Linked DNA regions of Homo sapiens: all the other regions are linked to region 1. Evidence: fine-mapped expression QTL. A gene starts in region 1. Each other region holds a variant in brackets. All regions are shown on one strand. Distances are from middle to middle. Region 1 holds the start of FCHSD1 (FCH and double SH3 domains 1). Region 2 overlaps DIAPH1 (diaphanous related formin 1). Region 3 overlaps PCDHGA1 (protocadherin gamma subfamily A, 1). Region 4 has its middle 6.2 kb from the start of ARAP3.

Evidence for each region. PIP is the estimated chance that this variant, and not a neighbour inherited with it, causes the effect. A credible set is the group of variants that fine-mapping cannot tell apart.
Region 2: its variant is the best candidate, but not a certain one, in a credible set for the expression of FCHSD1 in whole blood (INTERVAL, PIP 0.51).
Region 3: its variant is the best candidate, but not a certain one, in a credible set for the expression of FCHSD1 in whole blood (TOPMed, PIP 0.58).
Region 4: its variant is the best candidate, but not a certain one, in a credible set for the expression of FCHSD1 in whole blood (INTERVAL, PIP 0.64).

Annotation. Positions count from the first base shown.
Region 1 is chr5:141,647,622-141,653,743 of GRCh38, forward strand. It overlaps FCHSD1 (FCH and double SH3 domains 1), which reads right to left and starts at 3,797. Exons shown (of 20, transcript NM_033449.3): 1 at 3,727-3,797; 2 at 3,399-3,496; 3 at 2,738-2,783; 4 at 2,266-2,333; 5 at 1,774-1,915; 6 at 1,551-1,687; 7 at 1,336-1,399; 8 at 347-475. The coding sequence starts at 3,747. ARAP3 (ArfGAP with RhoGAP domain, ankyrin repeat and PH domain 3) reads right to left here. Exons shown (of 33, transcript NM_022481.6): 33 at 5,781-6,122. RefSeq lists an enhancer at 1,819-2,397.
Region 2 is chr5:141,591,462-141,597,583 of GRCh38, forward strand. All of the region lies in intron 1 of DIAPH1 (diaphanous related formin 1), which reads right to left. Among named protein-coding and RNA genes, the nearest start is that of DIAPH1, 24 kb to the right of the region's middle. The variant G/A (reference allele first, on the strand shown) is at 3,007.
Region 3 is chr5:141,450,321-141,456,442 of GRCh38, forward strand. The region is part of intron 1 of PCDHGA1 (protocadherin gamma subfamily A, 1); the gene reads left to right. All of the region lies in intron 1 of PCDHGA2 (protocadherin gamma subfamily A, 2), which reads left to right. The region is part of intron 1 of PCDHGA3 (protocadherin gamma subfamily A, 3); the gene reads left to right. All of the region lies in intron 1 of PCDHGB1 (protocadherin gamma subfamily B, 1), which reads left to right. It also overlaps PCDHGA4, PCDHGB2, PCDHGA5, PCDHGB3, PCDHGA6 and PCDHGA7, and 10 more genes. Among named protein-coding and RNA genes, the nearest start is that of PCDHGC3, 23 kb to the right of the region's middle. The variant C/T (reference allele first, on the strand shown) is at 2,568.
Region 4 is chr5:141,685,391-141,691,512 of GRCh38, forward strand. No RefSeq gene overlaps it. Among named protein-coding and RNA genes, the nearest start is that of ARAP3, 6.2 kb to the left of the region's middle. The variant C/G (reference allele first, on the strand shown) is at 3,050.

The DNA.
Region 1 (6,122 bases):
AGGAGAGAAGAAGACATTCTTCATGAGAAAGGCCCTCGTGTGCAGAGCACTTAGAAGTTTAAAACACGTTCACATCCATTCTCTCCTTTGAGCCCCACTAGTGCTATAAGATAGGCAGAGAAAGGGTTATCCCTGATGAGGAATCTGGGGTTCGGAAGAGTTTAAGTGTACTGTACAATGCCATGCAGCCAGCTAGGAGCAGAACCAGAGTGCATGTATGTATCATCTACTCACTCTAAACAGACAAGATCCCCTGCACCACCCACTGTCATGGGGATCAAGAAGCAGGGGGAGGTCCTCCTTTCCCTCCCTGCTGAGGGATAGGGGTGTCTGGGTTAAAACTGGCCTTGAGCAGAGCTGGCAGTTCCTCCTGGTAGTAATGGTCGAGGTGGGCATTGGTAGCCACCAAGTTAAGCAGGTACTCATTGCGGGCTGCTTGCAGCTGCTGGGAGTACTGGGCTGACTGGGCGGACAGCTAGGAGGGTAAACTGATGTCAATAGGAAGCCCTAGACCCCCAGAGTCCTTCCAAGACCAATTGAGAAGCCAGATCCAGAATGGATTCTCACATTATTGAGTGCTTACTATGTGCCTGGCACTACACTAAAAATGTTGCATACACACAACTCCTGCTCAAAATCTTCTAGTGCCTTCTGCACGCATTTAAAATAAAATCCACTGTTCCTTACCATGGTCCACCACGTTCAATATGAGCTGGCCCCCGCAATCTCTCTGACCTCTTTTCAAGCGCTTGTTCCCTTGCTCACAGTACTCCAGCCATACTGGCCCTCTCTCAGTTCCTCGAGCCTACAAAGTTATTCCCACCTCAGACCCTTTGCACTCACCATTTCTTCTCTCTGCAATGTTCTTCCCCTAGATCTTTGCAAGGCCAGCTCCTTCTTGACAGTTAGGCCACCTATTCAGAGAGGCCTCCCTCTAAATTCTACCCCCTTGTTATTCTTTATCATAGTACCTTGTTTTATTTTCATCTTAATCTAAGTATTTATTTGCTGTCTGTCTCTCTTAACCAGACTGTGAGGGCAGGAACTCCATTGGTAGTGTTCTCCACTGTATCCATAATGTCTAGAACAGTGCCTATTATATACAGATCCTCAATAAATGCATATTAAAGGACTGAAAAAGAAGGGTATTCTCTCCATTTTATAGAAGAAAATAAGGCTCACAGAGATCAAGTAAATTAACCAAGGTTACCCACCCAGGAAGTAGGAGAGCCTGGATTCAACCCAGTCTTTCATACATATGCACCTATGTTCCAAACCACTAGACTACTCTGCCTCCCTCTTCCCTGCCCCCACTCATGCCCTCATCCCTCGAACCTTGGTGCTCAGTTTCTGGAGACTGGTCCGAGAGTGGAAGATCCCATGGTCACTTCGGTTTAGCCTGTGCAGATGAGAGAAAGGAGTCAGGCCCACCCCAAGTGGGAGAATATGAGATCAGAGTCAGGCCCAGCTTTGGTGACTTGGCTCCACCCCTAGACAGCCCCACCTCCCTGTTCCCCAACCTTGGGCTTCCTCACTCTCCATGACCCCACCTGGCCTGGACATCAGCCGCCTTCTCCTGTGCCAAGGCCCACACACGTTCCCGCTGCCCATACAGCTTCCGACTTCGGCTCAGCTCCCGGACAGACTGCAGCACCTCAGCCTGCGCCCTCTGGAGGTTCTCTGTTCCCTATTGGGATGCATACACAAAGTCCTTACCTAGACCACCTTTGGTCCCAAGCCAGCTCTTCCTTCACCCCAACCTCTGAGCCATACCTTCCTAAGCACCTGCTCCTTGGCGCTCCGCCCTGTACCCCCTGCTAGGTCACGGTATCGGTCAGACGCCTGGAGTCGGGTTTGGCCCCCAGCCACGGTGGCATCCAGCAGGCAGCGCCAGGCACCGAACACTGTCCTGCCCCTCCCCAGAGAAGGTCTGTGTTGAGGAGGAGAGCACTCCACAGCTTCATGAGACCACCCCCACCCCCTGCCCCCTGACCAACACCATGGGAGACAGAGTGCTTTCCCATCCTCCCTTGTCTGGGAGCCCATCAATCGATCAGCCCATTAGCTCAGCCACAAGCCTCACTCCTGCCCTCCACCCCACCCACAGTGTCCTTGCTGGGTCAGCTCCTCTGCTGCTGCTGTGTCAGCTCTACCTACAGCTCACGTGCCTTCCCCACTTGCTAGGCCTTCATCCCCACAGGTTCCTGGGGCTGAGCTCCCCATCACTTTTTGGCCTCTGTGGCCCTCCCCCTCCATAGGGCCCACCTGCTGTCCATCTCACCGCTCCGGTGCCCTTCCCTCTTCAGGAATGGGCCAGCCAGTTTCTGGAGTGCCTGGTGAAAAAGCCATCACAGAACCAAGTTCCCTTTCAAAGACCCACCCCAACTGGCAGAATATGACATCAGAGTATAATCATACCATTCTTTGGGTACATTATGTGCCACTTGCTTTGCTAAATGCCTTATAGTCATTAATTTGTTTAATCCTTACAACAACCCTACATGAAGGTAAGGTATTATTATTATTCCCATTTCACAGAGAAAGAAACTGAGGTCAAGAAAGGTTAAGTAACTTGTCCAAGGTCACATGGCTATAATTACACAGCAGGGATCTGACACCAGTCTGCTTGACTCTAGGCATCTGCTCTTGACCACAATAGGGATAGGTATGGACAGACATTACTGGTGATATAAGAGAGGCTGGAACAAGAGGTAAGGTCCAGAGAAAAGTCCCATACCTGCCCATACTCCCGTTCAATGGCTGCCCTCTGCTTGCTGTAGGATCTGCGGAGATTGCAGGTCGGGGGTGAGGTGGGGGATAAGGTTATGTTTGGTCCTGTTCTCCCATCCTCAGTCCTCTACTCTGGGCAGGAGGGAGCGGTTGGGGGGAGCCAGGTTCCTAGAGTGTAACTACACCCAGAGGGAATGGGACTGATGGGAGTCCTTGAGATCACCTCGGGCAGCTGCAACACAGGAAACCCTCACCTTACTGCCCCGGGCCCCAGCAGGATCCTCCCCACCCCAGAGGTTCATCTGTAGGCTTAGAGGTGAAGACTGATGGGGGCCTGGGTACGATGTCTGCCAGCCTTCCAACAGGTCTGGAAGAGGGAGAGGGATTCTGCCCTAAGGTTGATTGTGGGGTTGGGGGCAGTGGTGTGGAGTCAAGGGCTTTGAGGGAGGGTTCCTGTGTGTTTATGTGGGTGGGAGGGGGTTGGGAGGGGTTAGGTGGGGGAGCATTCCTATCCAGTATCTGGAGAGGCCAGGCCTAGGGTGAGGGCTGTGGATGGGTCGGCTGGGGAGCTCTTGGCCCCTGTTCCTCCACCCCAGCACATGTATATTGGGGAGAAGTGGCGCACAACGACGAAGGTGAGTGTAAATGAAGGGGGTTGGGGGAGCTACCTGATGTCCTCCAGCAGATCCGCCTCCCTCTGCTGCCAGGTCTGAAGGATGCTCAGCTGTTCCAGGAAGCGAAGCTTCACCTCCTGGGCCGGCTTCACCTGTGGGGGCAAAGAGAGGATGAAGACCCCAGCGCAAGGACCTAAAAAACACTCCGCGCAGGGAGCGGTGAGGGGGCGGGGCCGGGGGGGTGCTGAGCTCTTTCCTCTGTTACTTCTGGTTTGGGGTCTGACCCCTTCCGACTTCCCGTCTCCTACCACAAGTCGGATGCCCCCTTAGCTCCCTCCGTTCCCCCAGCCCGCCAGGAGTCCCCATTCAGGGCCAAGCTCACTTTTCGGGGCGGCGGCTGCATCTCCGCTCCAGCAAGGCGGTCAGCCACTGGACTCCGGAACTGGAGGAAGCCCCGCCCACTATGGAGCCCCGCCCCAGGCCAGGTCAGGCCCCGCCCTCTGCCCGCCCACGACTTGTCCGGCGACGTCGCAGGGCGCGGAAGCGAGAGGGGGCCACCGAGAAACTAAACCTGTTACTGCTGCGAATACGCCGGCAGGGTCCGGGTGGCGGGGCGGGCGGGGCGGACGCAGCGTCCGCTGGGCGGTGGGAAGAACCCCAGGCATCTGAGTCAAGACGCCTAAGTTCTATTTGTAGTGTAACCACTGATTCAGCCTGTAATTATTGATAATTATTCATTTGCATATGTAGATCCCCAGTCCCCGAGCTAATGATGAGGAATGGAGAGGAATTCAGTGTGTGACCAGGGAAACTGAGTCACTGGGCACCTGAGCAAAGATGCATCTGACGAAGAGAGGGCTGGTCCCAGACCTTTTCCTAATTCCCGCTTAACTGGAAAAGCCAGCGTGAGCGGGGTGAGAAAGATGCCTGGATCCAGGAAGGAACCAGGCCCAAAGGGAAAAAGACTTGGCCCCACTGAAAACTAAACGATACCAGTGAGTCGGCGAGAGCTGGGAGATGCGCAGGAAGCCCCTGCCACCTTTAGGATCTTCCAGCCCTAGCACTGCTTCCTGAGGAGCCTCTCCCCAATTCCTCATCCTCCTCACCTAAGCTTCTTTGGCTCAGGCACCTGTCCCAGTACCCCTGACATGTCTCAAAACTCCAGATTCACATTCCAACTCCCCACTGACACCTCTGCTAGTATATCTAATAGGAACCTCAACTTTTAAAGCTTTTAAACCTCCTTCAACCTGATCCTCCCCCCGTAACGTTTTAAATGGCACCGCATTTCCTCCAGTCAGTTAAGTCAGAAACCCAGAGTCAATGTGCCTTCTCCTACCCCTACATTCTATCCATCAGTAAGTCCTACAGGTTCTATTTCAAACAACAATAAACAAACAAAAACCTCTTGATCCACTTCCCTCAATTTCCAAGACCACCATCCTAGTCCAAGCCCCCATTATTAGACTTCTGGTCTAATATCTGATCTCCTTGCTTCCACACTGCCCTCACCCCAACCCACTGTTCACACAGCACTCAGAGTGATCAACCTTTTTTTTCTTTTTTAAAGGGAAATAAGATCTCATAATTTACTTGCTTAAAATGCACTTGCTTCAGAATAAAATCCAAATAGAATCCATGGCCTTCAAGGCTACGCATGGAAGACCCTGCTGGTCTTTCTTACTTCAGCCTGTACTCTCCTCCCACTGTCTGCTCACTGTGCTCCAGCCTCTTTGCTGTTCCCTCAGTAGACCAAGTCCCTTCCAATGCAGAGTTCTTCATGCCTGCTTTCTTTCTCCAGAATCTCCTCCTTCCAGCGTTCCATCTGTCGCCTCCAACAGCTTCTTTCCCTTACTTTGCAACTCTTCACAGATGCCTTCCCCATCCACCCATCCAAAGACCATCTCCACAATCACTCTTTTTTTTTTGAGATGGAGTCTTGCTCTGTTGCCAGGCTGGAGTGCAATGGTGCAATCTCGGCTCACTGCAACCTCCACCTACCAGGTTCAAGTGATTCTTCTGCTTCAGCCTCCCGAGTAGCTGGGATTACAAGCACGTGCCACCACAACCAGCTAATTTTGTATTTTTAGTAGAGACAGGGTTTCACCATCTTTGCCAGGATGGTCTCAAACTCCTGACCTCAGGTAATCCATCCCCCTCAGCCTCCCAAAGTGCTGGGATTACAGGTGTGAGCCACTGCGCCTGGCCTCCACAATCACTCTTCAAGCTCATCACTTTGGTTCAGTTTCTTCACAGCACTAAACTCACTTGTTCAAGTACTGGTTTATGTGTTTATTTGCTATTTTCTGTTCCCCTCCACAACGGAGGATTCATAAGAGCAGGGGCCCTGTTTGTTTTGTTCATGCTATATCCCCAGACCTGGCACCAATTAGGTGCACAATACATATTTGTTGAATGAATGAATGAGAATGGTAGTCTTTTGGTTCCCAGGTTTATTGACAATTACTCATCTATTTTTGACTCCCCGAGTCCCAGCTCCCAAACTCGCTCTCCCTACTCCAGGCTTCACGGTAGTCCCAGAATGTAGGAAGTGGGACAGGATAGACTTTAACATCACCCAGGCCTCTGGTTTCCAAAGCATTTTTTTTCTTTAATGCAGTAAAACCATTCCTTTAAAACCCAAAATCTCTCATGGAACCCCTACGTATCAAATATATAAAGCAGGAGCTGCCCTTGTTCAGGGATAATATGTGGGGCTTATGGCTCTAAGAAACACAGTTTGACATTCACTGCTCTCCTTACTTCAGTTACCTCATG
Region 2 (6,122 bases), 56 kb before region 1:
GAAACTCTCCAAGTCTATTACACCTCTTCATTATATCAATGAAGAGACTGAAGCCCAGCCAGGTGAAGTAAATTACTGAGGTCATATGATTAGGGGATGAGTTGGATACAGAACTCAGGCATCCAGACTCCAAAGCTGCCAAATCTTTGCATTCCCCAAATTCTTGTGCCTTTTTCCTATTCAATATCCACTAACTCTCGCCTTTAGATGGAAAAGGAAGGAAGGGAGATGGGGATATATATATATATATATATATATATATATATGAAGGAAGATGCCAGTTTCCCTTGCTTTCCTAGGGCATCATCAGAAACAGATTTTATCTTAAAAAAAAATTATCTGCCAGGCACAGTGCCTCACGCCTGTAATCCCAGCACTTTGGGAGGCCGAGTCGGGTGGATCACGAGATCAGGAGTTTGAGACCAGCCTGACCAACATGGTGAAACCCCATCACTACTAAAAATACAAAAATTAGACGGGTGTGGTGGCGCCTGCCTGTAATCCTAGCTACTCAGGAGGCCGAGGCAGGAGAATCACTTGAACCCGGGAGGCGGAGGTTGCAGTGAGCCGAGATCGCACCACTGCACTCCAGTCTGGGTGACAGAGCGAGACTCTGTATCAAAAAAAAAAAAAAAGAAAGAAAGAAAATTTAAAAAAAATTACCCATGTTTTAGTGTTCAATTTGGGGAAGGACAGCAAACATGATCCACGAGGGAAAAAAAGCTGCATTTCCTGAGCTAGTCCAACAGAGGGCAGCAACAACCAGCAAAGTGAATCACAGCCCAGTCAGTACAAGCAAAACGGTTTTAGAATCCAATACAACACTCAAACAGCAAGCTCAATTATTAAAATAGAAACCTGCTGCTACAGTATATTCAGAGTGTATTGTTTACTTAGTTAATACTATGTGTGTTCTTACAGATTCTATGTTGGCAAACAGCTTTGTTCAGTAGTCATTTTTTAATTGTATCATTAGTTGTGTGTATTCTCTGAAATATAGAATAAGTTCCTAGATCATGACAAGTTAACAACAACAACAACAACAACAACAACAACAACAAAAACACAGGAGTCCAGGGAGATAAATGCTACTGGAGCTTTATTTATGTATTAGGTCTCAGATATCCAAGATTCTTAAAATTAAGTCTCTAATCATCCTACCTACATCTAAATGCATCCACTTTCATCATTCTCCTTGTTTGCTGTCAATTCTCTTCTGGTCCCAAACCAAACCCTTACTGTCCTAGGCTGGCTGTGGTAAATATCTCACTTCCTGGCCCTTCTATTGAGTCCTCCACTAAACATTAGCACTTATACCTTTAACTACAAATATAGATACTGAAGGAAGCATAAATACAGAATGAATTTTTTTAAAATATCCAAATCTGGCTTAGGAATCCAGATTAATAGGAACTTTCAGGTAAAAGATGTCAGACTGAACCAAAACATCTAATTTCTCTCCTTCTTGAAACCTCACTAAACCTACAGAAAAGGTGTTTTTTAGAAAGTAAGAAGTGATGCAAGGAAAGAGCCTACAAGGTTGGGAAGAACAAAAGAGCAACTGCAAATTTTGAAGACTGGGACTAGAAGAACTAGAGGTATTAAATCCAACACATTACAGAAAGCTGAGTCCTAAACCGGAAAGAGCAATAACCAACCCATTACACTTTAAGGATCCTCAAAAGGCTTAGGAATAATTGGCACCAGATACCTATGGAAATGGGAGTTAAAGGAGGGGGAGGCTAAAAATAAGACTGGTTGGAAGCTGTTTAAGAAGCAGTTAGATCCCTAGATCATACCCCACCCCTCAACCATGCCATTGGGAAACTACCCTCCCTTCTTCCAGCAGAGGTCTGGAAGTTTGTTCTCAGAAGAGGGTAAAACGGAGGGTCTCTGGATTGGAGGATGCCAGGGTCCCTATACTAAAAAGAAAAGTAAACCTAGGCATAGTATATACTGAGACACTCAGCACTTTTCCCCCTCTAGTCTCTTAGAGCCCCAGCAGCCTGGCCTTTCCCCTTGAGACAGAAGGTTGGAAGTGTCTTCTCTGGGGAATCAACTTAAAGCTTGTGACATAGTCCAAGTAGATCACTTCAGAGCTCCATTGTCCAACATGTACCACTAGGCACATATAATTGTACAGCACTACTAAGGTGGCTAGTGTAAGTGAGGAGGAATTTATTACATTTTATTTAACAAAATTTAAATGGCAAATAAACTTACGAAAGAAGCTCAACATCATATGTCATCAGGTAAGTGTAAATTAAAATAAGATACCACTACATACCTACTAGAATAGCCAAAATCCACAACACGGATGATGCCAAATGCTTGCAAAGATGTGGAGCAAGAACTTTCTTTTCTTTTTTTCTTTTTGAGATGGAGTCTTGCTCTGTCACCAAGGCTGGAGTGCAGTGGCATGATCTCAGCTCACTGCAACCTTCTTCCAGGTTCAAGCCTCCCGAGTAGCTGGGATTACAGGCGCATGCCACCACACGTGGCTAATTTTTGTATTTTTAGTATGGGGTTTCACCATGTTGGCCAGGCTGGTCTGGAACTCCTGACCTCAAGCGATCTGCCCACCTCGGCCTCCCAAAGTGCTGGGATTTATAGGCGTGAGCCACCGCACCCAGCCGAGCAAGAACTTTCAATTCATGGCTGGTGGGAATGTAAAATGGTACAACCACTTTCGAAGAGTTTCACAGTTTCTTATAAAACTAAACATACACTAACATAAGATCCAGCAATCATGCTCCTTGGTATTTATTTATCCAAAGGAAGTGAAAACGTATGTCCACACCAAAAACCTGCAGAGAAATGTTTACAGCAGCTTTATTCATAATTGCCAAAACTTGAAAGCAACAAAGACATCCTTTAGTAGGTGAACAGGTAACTAAACCATGGCACATTCAGACAACAGAACATTATCTGTTGTCTTAGTGCTAATCTTAAGGGCATACTGCTAAAAGAAAGAAGCTGAACTGAAAAGGCTACATATGGCCGGGC[G/A]CGGTAGCTCACACCTGTAAACATGGCACTCTGGGAGGCTGAGACGGGTGGGTTACTTGAGACCAGGAGGTTGAGGCCAGACTGGCCAACATGGTGAAAACACCGCCTCTACTAAAAATACAAAAATTAGCTCAGCATGGTGGTGGGTGCCTGTAATCCCAGCTACTTGGGAGGCTGAGGTATGAGAATCGCTTGAACCTGGGAGGCAGAGGTTGCAGTGAGCCAAGATCGAGCCACTGCACTCCAGCCTGGGTGACGGAGCAAGACCCAGTCTCAAAAAAAGGAAAAGGCGGCCAGGTGCGGTGGCTCATGCCTGTAATCCCAGCACTTTGGGAGGCTGAGGCAGGTGGATTCCCTGAGGTCAGGAGTTTGAGACCAGCCTGGCCAACGTTGTGAAATCTCTTCTCTAATAACAATACAAAAATTAGCTGGGCATGGTGGCGGGTGCCTGTAATCCCAGCTACTTGGGAGGCTGAGGCAGGAGAATCACTTGAAACCGGGAAGCAGAGGTTGCTGTGAGCCGAGATCACGCCATTGCACTCCAGCCTGGGCGACAAGAGCGAAACTCCATCTCAAAAAAAAAAAAAAAGAAAGAAAAAAGGAAAAGGCTACATATTATATGTACCCAACTATATGACATTCTAGAAAAGGCAAAACTATGGAAAAAGTAAAGAGAACTGTGGTTGCCAAGGGTTGGGGGAGGCAGGTAGGGTAGGCAGGTTATGAATAAATAGAGCACAGAGGGTTTTTAGGGCAGTGAAAAATACTCTGTATGATACTATAGTGATGGATATATGTCATTCATGGATTGTACAACACTAAGAGTGAACCCTAATGTAAACTATGGACTGGGTGATGCTGATGTGTTAATGCAGGCTCACCAATTGCAACAAATGTACCACGCTAGTGGGGGATGTTGACAATGGGGGAGGCCATGCGATATGGTTTGGCTCTGTGTCCCCACCCAAATCTCACCTTGAAATGTAATCCCCATAATCCCCATATGTCAAGGGCGGGACCAGGTGGAGGTAATAGGATCATGGGGACAGTCTCCCCTATGCTGTTCTCATGATATCAAGTGAGTCTCATGAAATCTTATGGTTTTGTAAGCATCTGGCATTTCCCCCGCTTGCACTCACTCTGTCCTGCCACCCTTAGAAGGCAAAGCAGAAGGTGCCTGCTTCTCCTTTGCCTTCCATCATGATTGTAAGTTTCCTGAGGCCTTCCCAGCAATGCAGAACTGTGAGTCAATTAAACCTCTTTCCTTTATAAATTACCCAGTCTCAGGTATTTCTTCATAGCAGTGTGAGAACGGATTGATACACCATGCACGTGTGTGGGCAGCGATATATTGGAAATCTCTATACCTTCATCTCAATTTTGCTGTGACCCTAAAACTGCTCTTCAAAAAAAAGGCTTAAAAAAATTTTTAGGGACTGGCTGTGGTGGCTCACATCTGTAATCCCGGCACTTTGGGAGGCTGAGGCAGGTAGATGGCTTGGGCCCAGGAGTTGGAGACCAGCCTGGGCAACATGGCAAAACCTGCCTCTACAAAAATATTTAAAAATCAGCCAGGCATGGGCCAGCCGCGGTGGCTCACGCCTGTAATCCCAGCACTTTGGGAGGCTGAGGCAGGTGGATTGCGAGGTCAGGAGATCGAGACCATCCTGGCTAACACAGTGAAACTCGTCTCTACTAAAAAATAAATACAAAAAATTAGCCGGGCGTGGTGGCACGCGTCTGTAGTGCCAGCTACTCGGGAGGCTGAGGCAGGAGAATCACTTGAACCCGGGAGGCAGAGGTTGCAGTGAGCCGAGATCGCACCACTGCACTCCAGCCTGGGTGACAGAGCAAGACTCTGTCTCAAAAAAAAAAAGTAATAATAATTAGCCAGGCATTGTAGCGCTTGCCTGTAGTCCCACCTACTCAGGAGGCTGAGGTGGGAGGATCAGCTGAGCCCCCAGAGGTTGCAGCAAGCTGAGATCACATTGCTGACAACAGAGCAAGACAATCTCAAAATAAATAAATAAATAAATAAATAAAAATTTAGCGTCTCAGTTGAGATGTCTGTAAATGTAAAATAAACACTGCAATTCATAACAATATAAAAAAGTAAAATATTTCATTAATAATTTTTATATTTCATTCATATTGAAGTAATATTTTAGATATATTAATTTCACGTTTCTAAAACTAGAAAATCTAAACTTACAATGTGATTCACATTAGATTTCTATTGGATGGTGCTGTCCTACAGCAAAGCAACCAGCTTTCAAATCCTACCCACGCACCTAGAGTTTCCAATCTGCTTTGTAATCCCTCATTCTTAAACATGAGTAGACAACCCAGGATTATCAGACATCTGAGGAAAGATCCTAACATGAGAGAAAGCGGGGCTGGGGGAAGCAACTTGCCAAATAAACAGTATGCAACAAGAAGAAAGATGTTCTAAAAATCATTAATATCCACAACAAACATTCAGAGGAAAAAGAGGTCATTAGAAGTTTAAAATACAAGAACAGAAATGAAAACTCAATAAAAGGACTGGAAGAATTAAGGAAATTCCCCAAAAAGTACAGCAAAAAGATAAGAAAATTAGAAGACCAGTTTGGGAGGACCAATATCCAAATAATAGGAGAAAACATAAAATAGAGAGCAAGTTATCAAGGAAATAAAGAAAATTTCCCAGTATTGAAGGATAAGTCTCTAGCACAAAGGACAAAAATAGATTATTCAAAGGCATATAATGGTGAAATTTCAAAACACCGGAATACAAAGAAAATCCTACAAAATTCCACAGAAAGGATGAAAACAGGTCATATACAAAGGAATCAGAGCAGTTCTGGGTTTCTTAACAATAATATCAACAGCTGGGTGGCAATGGAACAAGGCCTTTAAAAATCTGAAGAAAAATAATTTCCAAACTACAAATCTATACCCAACAAAAACTATCAATCAAATGTCAGCTTAGAATAGACATTTTCAGACATTTAAGCTTTAAAAAATCTGTTCCCATATACCGCAGGAAGCTACTGTAGGACATGCTCCACCAAAATGAGGATGCAAACCAAAAAAGTGCAAGACTTGAAATACAGGAAATGAAACCTAACACATGA
Region 3 (6,122 bases), 200 kb before region 1:
ATGTCTCTTTAATCTACTTTAATCTGAAACAGTTCCTCAGCCTTGTTTGTTTATATGAAACTGACATTTGTAAAGACTAGAAGCCATTTGTCTTGTATAATGCCTTTAATTTATATTTGTTTTATGTTTCCTCGTGATTTTATATATAGAGTTTGTTTGTTTGTTTGTCTGTTTGTTTGTTTTGAGATGGAGTCTCATTCTTGTCACCCAGGCTGGAATGCAGTGGCGCAGTCTCGGCTCACTGCAACTTCTGCCTCCCAGGTTCAAGCAATTCTCCTGCCTCAGCCTCCTGAGTAGCTGGGATTACAGATGCCTGCCACCATGCCTGGCTAATTTTTGTACTTTTAGTAGAAACGGGGTTTTGCCATGTTGCCCAGGATGGTCTCCAACTCCTGACCTCAGGTGATCCGCCCGCCTTGGCCTCCCAAAGTGCCGGGATTACAGGCATGAGCCACCGTGCCCGGACCTCATGATTGTATTTATTTATTTATTTAATATTATTATTATTATTTTTTTTTTTTTGAGATGGGGTCTTGCTCTGTCACCCAGGCTGGTGTGCAGTGGTGCGATATCGGCTCACTGCAACCGCTGCCTCCCAGATTCAAGCAATTCTCCTACCTCAGCCTCCCAAGTAGCTGGGATTACAGGCATGTGCCACCACACCCGGCTAATTTTTTTGTATTTTTTTTAGTAGAGACGAGGTTTCACCATATTGGCCAGGCTGGTCTCGAACTCCTGACCTTGTGATCCACCCACCTTGACCTCCCAAAGTGTTGGGATTACAGGCGTGAGCCACCACACCCAGCCTTATGATTGTATTTAGACTAGACATTTTTTTGGTAGTATATTATTTAGCCATTGCTGTGTAACAAATTATCCCAAAACTTAGTGGCTTAAAAGAAGCATTTATTATCTCATAAATTTTGTGGATCAGGACTGGGTATAGCTTTGCTGAGTGCCTCTGCCTCAAAGTCTTACAAGGCAGCAATTAAAGTGTCACCTAAGGCTATTGTCTTATCTGAAGGGTCAACAGAGGATGGATCCGCTTCTAATCTCTCTCACATAGTTAATGGCAAAATTAAGTTCCTTGTGGATTGTTAGACTAAGGGTTCCAGTTCCTTGCTGGTTGTTAGCTTGAGGTCTACCTCAGTTCCTTGCCATGTGGACCTCCATAGGGCAACCAGCTTCTGTTAGAGCAAGTAAAGGAGAGTGCCAGAGAGGGCAAATGTGATGAAAGCCACAATCTTTTTATAAACCTAATTTTGAAAGTGACATACAAGGCTAGGCATGGTGGCTCAAACCTGTAATTCCAGCACTCTGAGAGGCCAAGGAGGGTGGACTGCTTGAGCCCAGGAGTTCAAGACCAGCCTGGGTAACATGACAAAACCCTGCCTCTACTAAAAATACAAAAATTAGCTGGTCTGGTGGTGCATGCCTATAGTCCCAGCTACTCAGGAGGCTGAGGCCAGAGAATTGCTTGAACCCAGGAGGCGGAGGTTACAGTGAGCCGAGATCACACCACTCCACTCCAGCCTAGGCCACAGAATGAAACCCTGTCAAGAAAGAAAGGAAGGAACAAGGGAGGGAGGGAGGAAGGAAGGGAGGTAGGGAGGCAGGGAAAGACCGAGAAAGTGACATACCATCATTTTTGCTGTAGTTTGTTCATTAGAAGCAAAATCACTTGGTCCAGCCCACACTCTGGGGAGATGATTTTCTAACTCCATTTGTAATAACTTATTCTACTTTTATTAGTTGGCATTATACAGTAAGAAAGAGCTTTCTTTTCTCTTCTTATTTATTCATATATGGCTCATGTGTTTTTTCCAATGAGTTATATTCTATTACTAACATTTTTTATTTTGACCTCAAATTGTTTTAGATGTTACCAATAAGAACCTCTTCAAGCTGGTTCTTGTGTCCTTTTGCCATAACTCTCTCATTTTCTTGAACCCTTTCTTACTTTCTGATATAAGAAAATATTAGAGACTCATACTTTCCTTGTTCCAGTTCTGAGATGAACCATTTATCCAAAAGCCTTGCTTCATTTTAGTAGGGAATAGTATTTAGAAACTAAGATCTGGGTGTGAGGTATGCTCACTGCTAATGGGCTGTCACTGTTTCTAGGCCTTGTCAGCAGACGGAGCTAGGAAAAACACACATAAACACACCCATATTTATATTTGTACACACACTCCCTCAAAATCGTGAGTTCATATTGATACCTCCAGTTCTGGTTCTTCCTAGCCTTCCCCCTTTCCATCTTTGTATTTTTATTTTCCAACAGTAAGAACCCTGGCTCCCAGTGCTATGAATATATTTACTCATTTGCTCCATCCACTGCACTCCAGCCTAGGCCACAGAATGAAACCCTGTCAAGAAAGAAAGGAAGGAATGAGGGAGGGAGGGAGAGAGGAAGAGAGAGAAGGAAGAAGGAAGGGAGGGAGGGAAAACTGAGAAAGTAACATACCATCATTTTTGCTGTAGTTTGTTCATAAGAAGCAAAATCACTTGGTCCAGCCCACACTCTGGGGAGATGATTTTCTAACTCCATTTGTAATAATTTATTC[C/T]ACTTTTATTAGTTGGCATTATACAGTAAGAAAGAGCTGCTGAAGATTTGCTTGCAATTGGTTGTCTTTAAACTGAGGGTATATTGTCAAAGTACTGTGCTGAAAAGTTACCTGTAGTATAGTTATGTGATTCATTAAAATAAAGTTTGTTTCTATTATGTGCAGTTTTAGAGTTTTGCCACACTCTGGTTGATTAGTATATTTTCTGTTGCTTTTTTGTTTTGTTTTGTTTTGTTTTGTTTTTGAGATAGGGTCTCGCTATGTCACCCAGGCTGGAGTCCAGTGGTACAATCACAGCTCACTGCAGCCTCAACCTCGTGCACTTAAGCGATCCTCCCACCTCAGCCTCCCAAATAGCTGGGGCTGCAAGTGCACACCACCATGACTGGCTAATTTTTTAATTATTTATTTATTTATTTATTTATTTTAGAGATGGGGTCTCACTATGTTTCCCCAGGCTGACCCTGAACTCCTGGGGTCAAGTGATCCTCCTGCCTTAGCCTCCAAGTGCTGGTATTACAGGCATAAGCCACCACACCTAGCCTAGTATTCTTTTTTGAATATGTAAAACATTAACATAAAGTCAAAACTATTAAAAAAAGGTGTACTCAGAAAATTGTCATTCCTCCCCTATACCTTCTGCCTCATTCACACCACACTCTGTAGATAATCGATTTCATTAGTTTGTGGTTTATCCTCACTGTGTTTCTTTTTGCAAAACGCAAAAACAAAACCTATACATATTTATATTTTCTTATGTCCTCTTCTTTCTTACACAAAAGGTAACACACTATGTAGGTAGTCCTGGCTTTGAACAGTTTCACTATAAAAATATTTGTTACTACAGCTTAAATAACATAAGTCTCCTAAAAATAATTCAAATTTTAGTTACCATGGTATATTAACTTTGAGTAGTTCCATAAAGGACAAACTTGGCTGCTAGCCCTTCAGTCCACAGAGCACTTTGAAAATAACAGATGAGCAAAATAATGTGGCCAATCACATGACTTCTTTCAAAGTATGTCAGTGATCAGTCACTGTGTGCCTATAATTTAGTTCATGCACAGACAGCAAAGCATGTAGTTGTGTTGCCTTCCAGTGATAAACCCACATAACATTTTAGAAAAATGTATTAAGAATTGGCCAGCAAAGATAAAAGTGCAGCAAAGAAACAAAAGTGATAATGTTTTCAGTGAAATTTGAATTGAACATAAATGGAGTTATAGAAGAAATAGCTGACCATGGGAATGTTCACACTGCTACTTTCAAGAATCTCTAGAAGGGCAGCTAAAGGAGCTTAGTGAAGGTGAATTTATTGACATGAATGAGAAAAGTAATTGTGATGAAAAGGATGAAGATGTCCCAGAGAAAGTAATGCCAGCAAAAACTTCACATTAAAGGAACTCTCAGATATTTCAAAGCATTGAAACCTCCAAGAATAAATAAAATGTTGGAAGTTGATCCAAACTTAGAAAGGAGTATGGCAACTTGTCAAGATGAAGAAAAGGTGCTTATTCCTTTTTATTTATTTATTTAGAGACAGAGTTTCACTCTTGTTGCCCAGGCTGGAGTGCAATGGCATGATCTCAGCTCACCGCAACCTCCACCTCCTGGATTCAGGCAGTTCTCCTGCCTCAGCCTCCCAAGTAGCTGAGATTACAGGCATGTGCCACCACGCCCGGCTAATTTTGTATTTTTAGTAGAGACAGGGTTTCTCCATGTTGGTCAGGCTGGTCTCGAACCCCCAACCTCAGGTGATCTGCCCACCTCGGCCTCCCAAAACACTGGGATTACAGGCATGAGCCACCATGCTCCACCTGCTTATTCCATATTATATGTTATAGGATGAAAAGAGGCCAAACTAATCTTGACATGTTTTTTACAAGGAAATAATCCTCCATGGTTCTAATTTTTTTTTTTTTTTTTTTTTTTTTTTTTGAGACAGAGTCGCGCTCTGTCACCCAGGCTGGAGTGCAGTGGCACGATCTTGGCTCACTGCTAGCACCGCCTCCCGGGTTCACGCCATTCTCCTGCCTCAGCCTCCCGAGTAGCTGGGACTACAGGCGCCGGCCACCACGCCTGGCTAATTTTTTAAAAAATATTTTTAGTAGAGACGGGGTTTCACCGTGTTAGCCAGGATGGTCTCGATCTCCTGACCTCGTGATCCGCCCGCCTCGGCCTCCCAAAGTGCTGGGATTACAGGCTTGAGCCACTGCGCCCGGTGGGTCTAATGTTTTAAATTACACTGTGTTAAATAAATATTAGTTTGTTGGTTTTTTTTTTAGTTTTTTTATTTCTCTACAAATTTACAACCAATAAGAGTTTTTAATGCTTTGACAAAAAATGTTAAAGGTCATAGTACAATCGCATTTCTTCCCATTGATTATTAACATCACTTTACATAGTTTCATCTTGCATTAGCAATTTTGTGTGTGTGTTTGTGGTTTTAAGGAGCGGAGAGTTTAATAGGCAAGAAGGAAGGGAGAAGACAGAAGGAAGGAGCTCCCCCTTACAGAGACAGAGGGAGCGGGGCTCCAAAAGAGGAGGTCCCCATCTACCGCGGATACCAGCCAGGTATATATGCAGAGGCTGGTGGAGGTGATGTCTGATTTGCATAGGGCTCAGGGGATTGGTTTGACCAGGCATATCATTCACGTAGCCCGAGAAAAAGCTGGCCCTCCCACCCCAGCCTTTTAATATGCAAACGTAGGGCGCCATGGATGTTCTAAACACGTGGAGATATGTGGGGGGCAGCCATGTGGCCAGGAACTTGTGGGGCAAGGGCAAGAAGGCTGTGGGAATCGCCAAGTTGAATGGACCTAGTTTCTAATGGCCTGCATTTGCATATCAAAGGTTGCTGGCCTGGCTCCTAGAGCCGGGGCTTTAAAAGAAACTTTTCCGGAGATGCTTTAAAAAATGAAAACTTCCCAAGGACCCCTTTTCCTGTCTATCTGCATAAAATAATTTCTTTTATTATTTATTTATTTATTTATTTATTTATTTATTTATTTATTTATTTATTTATTTTGAGACGGAGTCTCGCTCTGTCGCCCAGGCTGGAGTGCAGTGGCGCGATCTCAGCTCACTGCAAGCTCCGCCTCTCGGGTTCATGCCATTCTCCTGCCTCAGCCTCCCGAGTAGCTGGGACTACAGGCGCCCACCACCACGTCCGGCTAATTTTTTGTATTTTCAGTAGAGACGGGATTTCACCGTGTTAGCCAGGATGGTCTCCATCTCCTGACCTCCTGATCCGCCCGCCTCGGCCTCCTAAAGTGCTGGGATTACAGAATAATTTCTTAATAACTCCTACCACATTCCTCCCTGTGGCGATATCAAACTAACTGCTGTTAGGAGGCTTTGGGCGACCATTGCTTCTGGCTACTTCCTGCTGAAAAGGGGCGTCTAATGGAGAACAGCAGCTAGGGCTCCTCCTGGGGTTGATCTAAGGGTCCTCGGAAGAATGGCGTCCATGTGTGGTTCAGTTTACAGCACCGTTTGGAGTTTGATTGCTTCTAGGCGAGAAGAAACAATTCAAGTTATAGTATTGAGTATACA
Region 4 (6,122 bases), 38 kb after region 1:
ACTCAGGAGGTGGAGGTGGGAGGATTGCTTGAGCCAGGAGGTGGAGATTGCAGTGAGCCGAGATCGTACCACTGCACTCCAGCTTGGGTGACAGTGAGGCCTGTCTCTAAAAACAAAACAAAACACCACCACCAACAACAACAAAAACTAAAACAAAAGGTCAACAAAAAAACAGTCTCTAAAATAAAGCCCTGATGCCACCTCTACCAGCTGTGACCTGAGCAGATTATTCATCTCTATTTTGCCCTGTGTGCCTCAGTTTCCTTTTCTGAAAAAAGGAGAGAGAATAGTGCCTGACAGGGTTGTAAAGATTAATCTATGGAAATATATGGGTAATATGTGGAAAGGACCTGACATTCAATGAGTGCTCAAAGTGTTTCCTGTTCCTTGTTCCTATTTTTGCCAGTTACTTCCATGATAACTCTGGTATGCACCCAGCTTGCCTGTTTCTTCATCACTCTGGCATATCCCGTTACCTATTTTAATCAATCAGCCTGTGGCATCCTATTGCCAAATTAGACCACATTGTACCCCTTGTATTTTCCCCAGGGTCCCCAGTTGTCATCTTGTCTGTTCCATCACTTTTGTAACTCAATTTCCTGTCACCCCTGCAACTCCTGATCGCCTCCATGGTCTCCAGTGGCCTCCAGGTCACACTCCTTTCCTGCCCTTACCCTCTGGATGGTAAAAGGCACAGCCATCACCCACATTTGGTCCTGATGAGATGGGACAGGGCCTAGGGGGATGCCAAGGTGCAAGTTTCTTTTTATTTATTTATTTTTTTGAGACAGAGTCTCCCTCTGTCGCCCAGGTTGGAGTGGAGTGGTGCGATCTCGTATGACTGTAGACTCCGCCTCCCAGATTCAAGCGATTCTCCTGCCTCAGCCTCCCTAGTAGCTGGGATTACAGGCGCCCACCACCACATCCGGCTAATTTTTGTGGTTTTTTTTAGTAGAGACGCAGTTTCACCATGTTGGCGGGGCTGGTCTTGAACTCCTGACCTCAGGTGATCCGCCTGCCTTGGCCTCCCAAAGTGCTGGGATTACAGGCGTGAGCCACTGCGCCCGGCCGAGCATGTTTCTTACAGGAAGGAAGACTCCCATTCAATCCTTTCATTTATTTCTCATGTTTTTATTAATCATCTTTTCTGGACCAACCACTGCTCAAGGGTTTAGAGATGCAATGACGTGCTCAGCAGACTTTAGGGAACATGACCTGCTCAAGAAGTGAGACATTTATCAAACAACCCCCAAATAAATGTGTAATTACAAACCAAGATGAATTTTCTGAAGGGAAGCACTGTAAGAGCATATAACAGAGGCAGCTGACCTGGCCTGGGGGTCTGGGAGGCTTCTGCAGGGAGCTCTGCTTAAGTTGAGATCTCAGAAAGATGGGTAGGAGTTAAGCGGGATGGGAGGGAGTGTTCTAGGCAGAAGAACCACGAGTGCAAAGGCCCTGAGGTAGGAGTCAGCCTGGTGAGGAAGGGAGACAGATCAAAGAGACAGGGAGTTTGGGACCAGCTGAGACTGAAAGGATCTCAGGGGCCAGGCCATGCAGGCCCTTGGAGGGCTTGTATGAGATTTGGTCTCCATGCCAGGAGCCATGGGGAGCCAGGGAAGAGTTTAAGCATGGGGCAATAGACTCATGAATTTAGGTTTGAATTTTAGGAAGATGGCTGCATGGAGACTGGTTAGGGTCAGCACAGCCCTCCCTACCCCTAATTCCTCTGGCCTGAGGGCTGTGCCATTTCCCCCTAGACTCCAGAGCTACCCTCCAGGGAGCCCCTTCCCACTTCCCTCCTCACATTTTTGTGAGGATGAAGTCATCATTGAGGAGAGGAGGGAGTTCCAGGCCTCTACGCCTTCTTTATCCTGGAGAACTGGGGCAGCCCTGGGGTCAGGGGGAGGGAAGGAACAAACACAGAACACCTCCCTTCCCCTGCATCCTCATTCCCATGACTGGGCCCTGTCTCCTTCCACCCTAGGCTATTGACATGAGCTGTATTTACAAGATTTTTAATGCAATTTTACTGCAAAATGTTTTATAAAGGGTATCTAGTACTACAGCTAGTACTAACTCCCCTTAGGGCTTGGGGCAAGTCATCTCTCTTTGGGTCTCAGTTTCTCTATACATAAAATTAATGGCAGTGCTGTTTGATAGAATTTCCTGCAATGATGGACCGTGTTCTCTATTTGTGCTGTCCAGTATGGCAGCCGGTAGCCACATGTGGCCATTGAGAGGTTGAAATGAGGTTGGTGAGCCAGAAGAGCTGAATATTTAATTTAATTTAATTGTAATTAATTTAAATTTAAACAACCACTGGCTGCCAATATTGGACAGCACAGGCAAATCTTAAACTTTTTTGAGACTCTGGTGACAGTTATGGATCTCTCCCTAGAAAAACACCCTGCACCCAACTCTCAAAGACGAGGGCCCTTCCAATCCTATTTATGCATCCCAGGCAAAGCAGACTGTAGACTGCTGGGGCTCAGGTCCCTCATCTCCTCTTCCCTTCCTGCTGCCTTGAAAATGCTGAAATAGGGCTTTGCCTAGAGGCAGGAGAATGACAAGGATGACTCCAGGAATTAGCAGACCTTTGTTTAAAGCTTCTGGTGCACCACTGCACACATCTAAAGAAAGACAGAAGAGTGAAAGCAGGGGTAGGTGCAAGGAGAGTATTAGGGATATTTGGACATGCTCAGTCTCTGCCCTACCTCCCTGCAAACCACCAAATTGCTGCTGGGCCAGTCCTTTTTTGGACACAAAACTCCATCGGAGTGTGAGGCTGTACTCCAGATATGGGGTTGTGCCCTGGGCATGCAGTATTTATGAACTGGGGCTTTGGGAGTGACCAGAGGGGGTGGGGGGGGGGGCTATCTTAGTCCATTTGCATTGCTGTAACAAAATACCGGATACTGGGTTATTTATTTATTTATTTTTTATTTATTTACTTTTTGAGACAGTCTCACTCTGTCGTCCAGGCCGGAGTGCAGTGGCACTATCTGAGTTCATTGCAACCTCCGCTTCCCAGGTTCAAGTGATTTTCCTG[C/G]CTCAGCCTCCCAAGTAGTTGGGATTATAGGCATGTGCCACCATGTTTTGCTAATTTTGTGTTTTTAGTAAGGACGGGGTTTCACCATGTTGGCCAGGCTGGCCTCGAACTCGTGACCTCCGCCAAAGTGCTGGGATTACAGGTGTGAGCCACCGTGCCCAGCCAACCGTTTACTCACTCTTGATGTTTTCACTGTCCAGAGCATCTGTGGGTCAGACACTGCCCCCACCCAGGAATATGGAGCCCTGAAGGTGTCAGGAGAATGCACTCCCTGCCTTGCATGGATGCAGTTGTCTACTCCTTGGGAGAAAGATAATATTTTTCTCCCTTCTCACTTCTAGGATCTAATCACTCTCTCCCAGAAAACTCACTGCACAGACCCATTTACAGGGGGCAGTTTTCACTGGGACTTAACTTCCTACCCTCTGATCTCCCCACTCGATTTCTTGACCATGCCTGCCCCTCCCTCATTGCTCAGATGTCCATCTATACTTTCTCTCCCATCTGGAAAGTAGTTGCTTGGTTCCTGTCCCCCGGGGTCTCCATTTCTTTGGCTTCAGCAGAGATGCTGGACTGGTTAAACTCAGGCTCCAGTGGTGACCACAGTGTGGGACACAGACGGGGAAACAGCTTTCAGGAATCCCTTTGTCTTAGGTCTTTGAGAAGCAGAGCCTGTGGTCAGGATTCAGGTGGAAGCCCTGAGCTGAGGGAGAGGAAATGGAGGATGCAAGGTGAGACAGTGCGGTGCCTTCCTGTCCTGCCCTGCTTCACACAAGCCCCTCAGAGACACTGCTGGCTACTCAGCAGGGGTGCTCTCTCTCGGCACGTGGGTGGGACTTCTCCAGAAGGTAAGGAGGAAATCCACCTTGGAGCAGTCCTCAGCTCCCACCCATGACCTGTCTCCCATGGGTCAAGGTTCACCCCACAGAGTCACCTTCCCATGCTTCTGGGTTCTGTTACCCAGCCCTTGGTGGCACTTGGAAACCAGGTTCCACACTGTACAGTGTGGCATTTTATCTAAGTCTGAAAGTAGAGGAGGAGGTAGTGAAGGAATTTGAGAAGAAAGGTTCATGTCTCAGGGCAGCCCATTTCTCATGCCACTGAGATCCACTCAAGTCCTCCCATTATACCTGACTTCTATGCCACCCTACAGGGCATTTTCCCCCACAGGGACAAAGTTGCCCTCACTCTTTCCTCATGAGGGAAAGTACAGTCCACTGGAATCAAGTCCCCTTCCAGAAAATGCCAGATGTGGTCTTAAGGAAGATAAAGAGGAGAGGGCTAATGAAGCAAGCTACAGTCCCACTGCTGTAGCGTGTCTTGAGTCCATAATTGATATTCTCTCCCTCCTTCCGTGACCCTCCGCTAGCCCTCTGCAGATCTGGGCTACTTGCCTGATGAGATTATACAGACGTTCATCCCCAAGAGATCTGATGCCTTTGTTGCCCTGTCCTTTTAGAATTGTTGTTGAAGTTGTCCATTGGCAATTACTACCGGGTGGGAAGTTCCAAGAGATGCCACAGCGAATCCCCTGGCTGGGGCCAGACTCCCCGCCTTCATTGCATCTATGCACATTGTATCTACAGCCCTGGTTCCTCATGGCCATCAGGATCAATGGCCCTGGCCAGCACATTAATGCCCTTCTTTGTCTATTAGCCCACTAGAATGAGGAGCATAAGGTGGCCACGTGGCTGTCACAGCTTCCAGTTTAGTGGAAACTACTGTGTTCTTTCATATAAGTTCTCCCTTCCTGGCAACTAGAAACTCGAATTGGCAGAGCCACCAGTTTTGGGGACAGAAAGCAAATATTCTACAAATGTGAATGAGATGGGCCACGTCCACTTCCACATTTGACTCCAGGACTGGCAATTTCTATGTATAAGGAACATAGTACTGGTCAAAACAAATACCGCATCAAGGAGTTGAGGGCCCCAACCCACAGGTGTCATGTTCCTGCCAGTGTCTTCACTGAGCATTCAACAGGCTGTCCCCTTGTCCCATCAGGCTGGCAGCTTCTAGGTGATGAGGAGCAACCAAGCGAGCCCAATGACTCTGTTGATCGGCATCCCATACACCATATACAAAGATGAACTCAAAAATGGATCAAAGACCTAAATGTAAGAGCAGAAACTATAGAAGTCCTTGATGACCACATTATTGTACTTTTTTGGTAAAAACACTGTGGAAGACAAGCCTGAATCTGGAGCATGCACTGTTGCCAGTAAGAACGAATTACTGTCCCCTCCAGAGTAGAAAGAATAGGGTCAGTGTAACTGATCTGCAGCCAGAGGCTTGGCTGGTCTTCTGAGGAAGAGAGCCTTCTGAGGGAGGGCCCAGCACTGGTCTTGGCTGCAGGCAGGTTGAGTGATCAAAGTGGTAGAACTAGCTCATCCTTGGTGAGAGGGAGCCCATGCTGTTGGGCTCATACATAGCCTCCATCTCTGGTAGCATGACTACTCTGTTCAAGGGCTTTTGAGCAGGCATTCAGGGTAGACAGGGAGAGAGATTCACTCACCAGGCGAATCATTGTATCTCTGTGGAGCGTGTCCTGGCAAAAGATGCTCTGCTGGTTGTTTACCTGAGACCCAGAGGTTTGCACACTTGGTGCTCACTCTCAGTCCACCCATCTACCTCTTTCCTAGACCACTTTGTCACTTGCCTTTGGCTTTTGTTCCTTTGGGCTCCTGACTAGGGGACATTCACTATTCCACAGGAGCCAGGGAATTTGCACACTTGGTGCTCACTCTCAGTCCACCCATCTACCTCTTTCCTAGACCACTTTGTCACTTGCCTTTGGCTTTTGTTCCTTCGGGTTCCTGACTAGGGGACATTCACTATTCCACAGGAGCCAGGGAATATCCACAACTCAGGCTATTTGTTCGTTTAGAGAAAGCTAACGCCCAAGTGTACTGCTCAAAGCTTTGCACCCTGGAACCTCCCTTCCCCACTGTCCTTTAGGGCTACGCCAAGACGGCCATAATGTGGCAGCAATCCATTTCTAACTCTCACCAACATATCACACTGACCATCTGTGAACCAGGGCTGAGTCCCTTCCTCATCTAGCATTTGACCA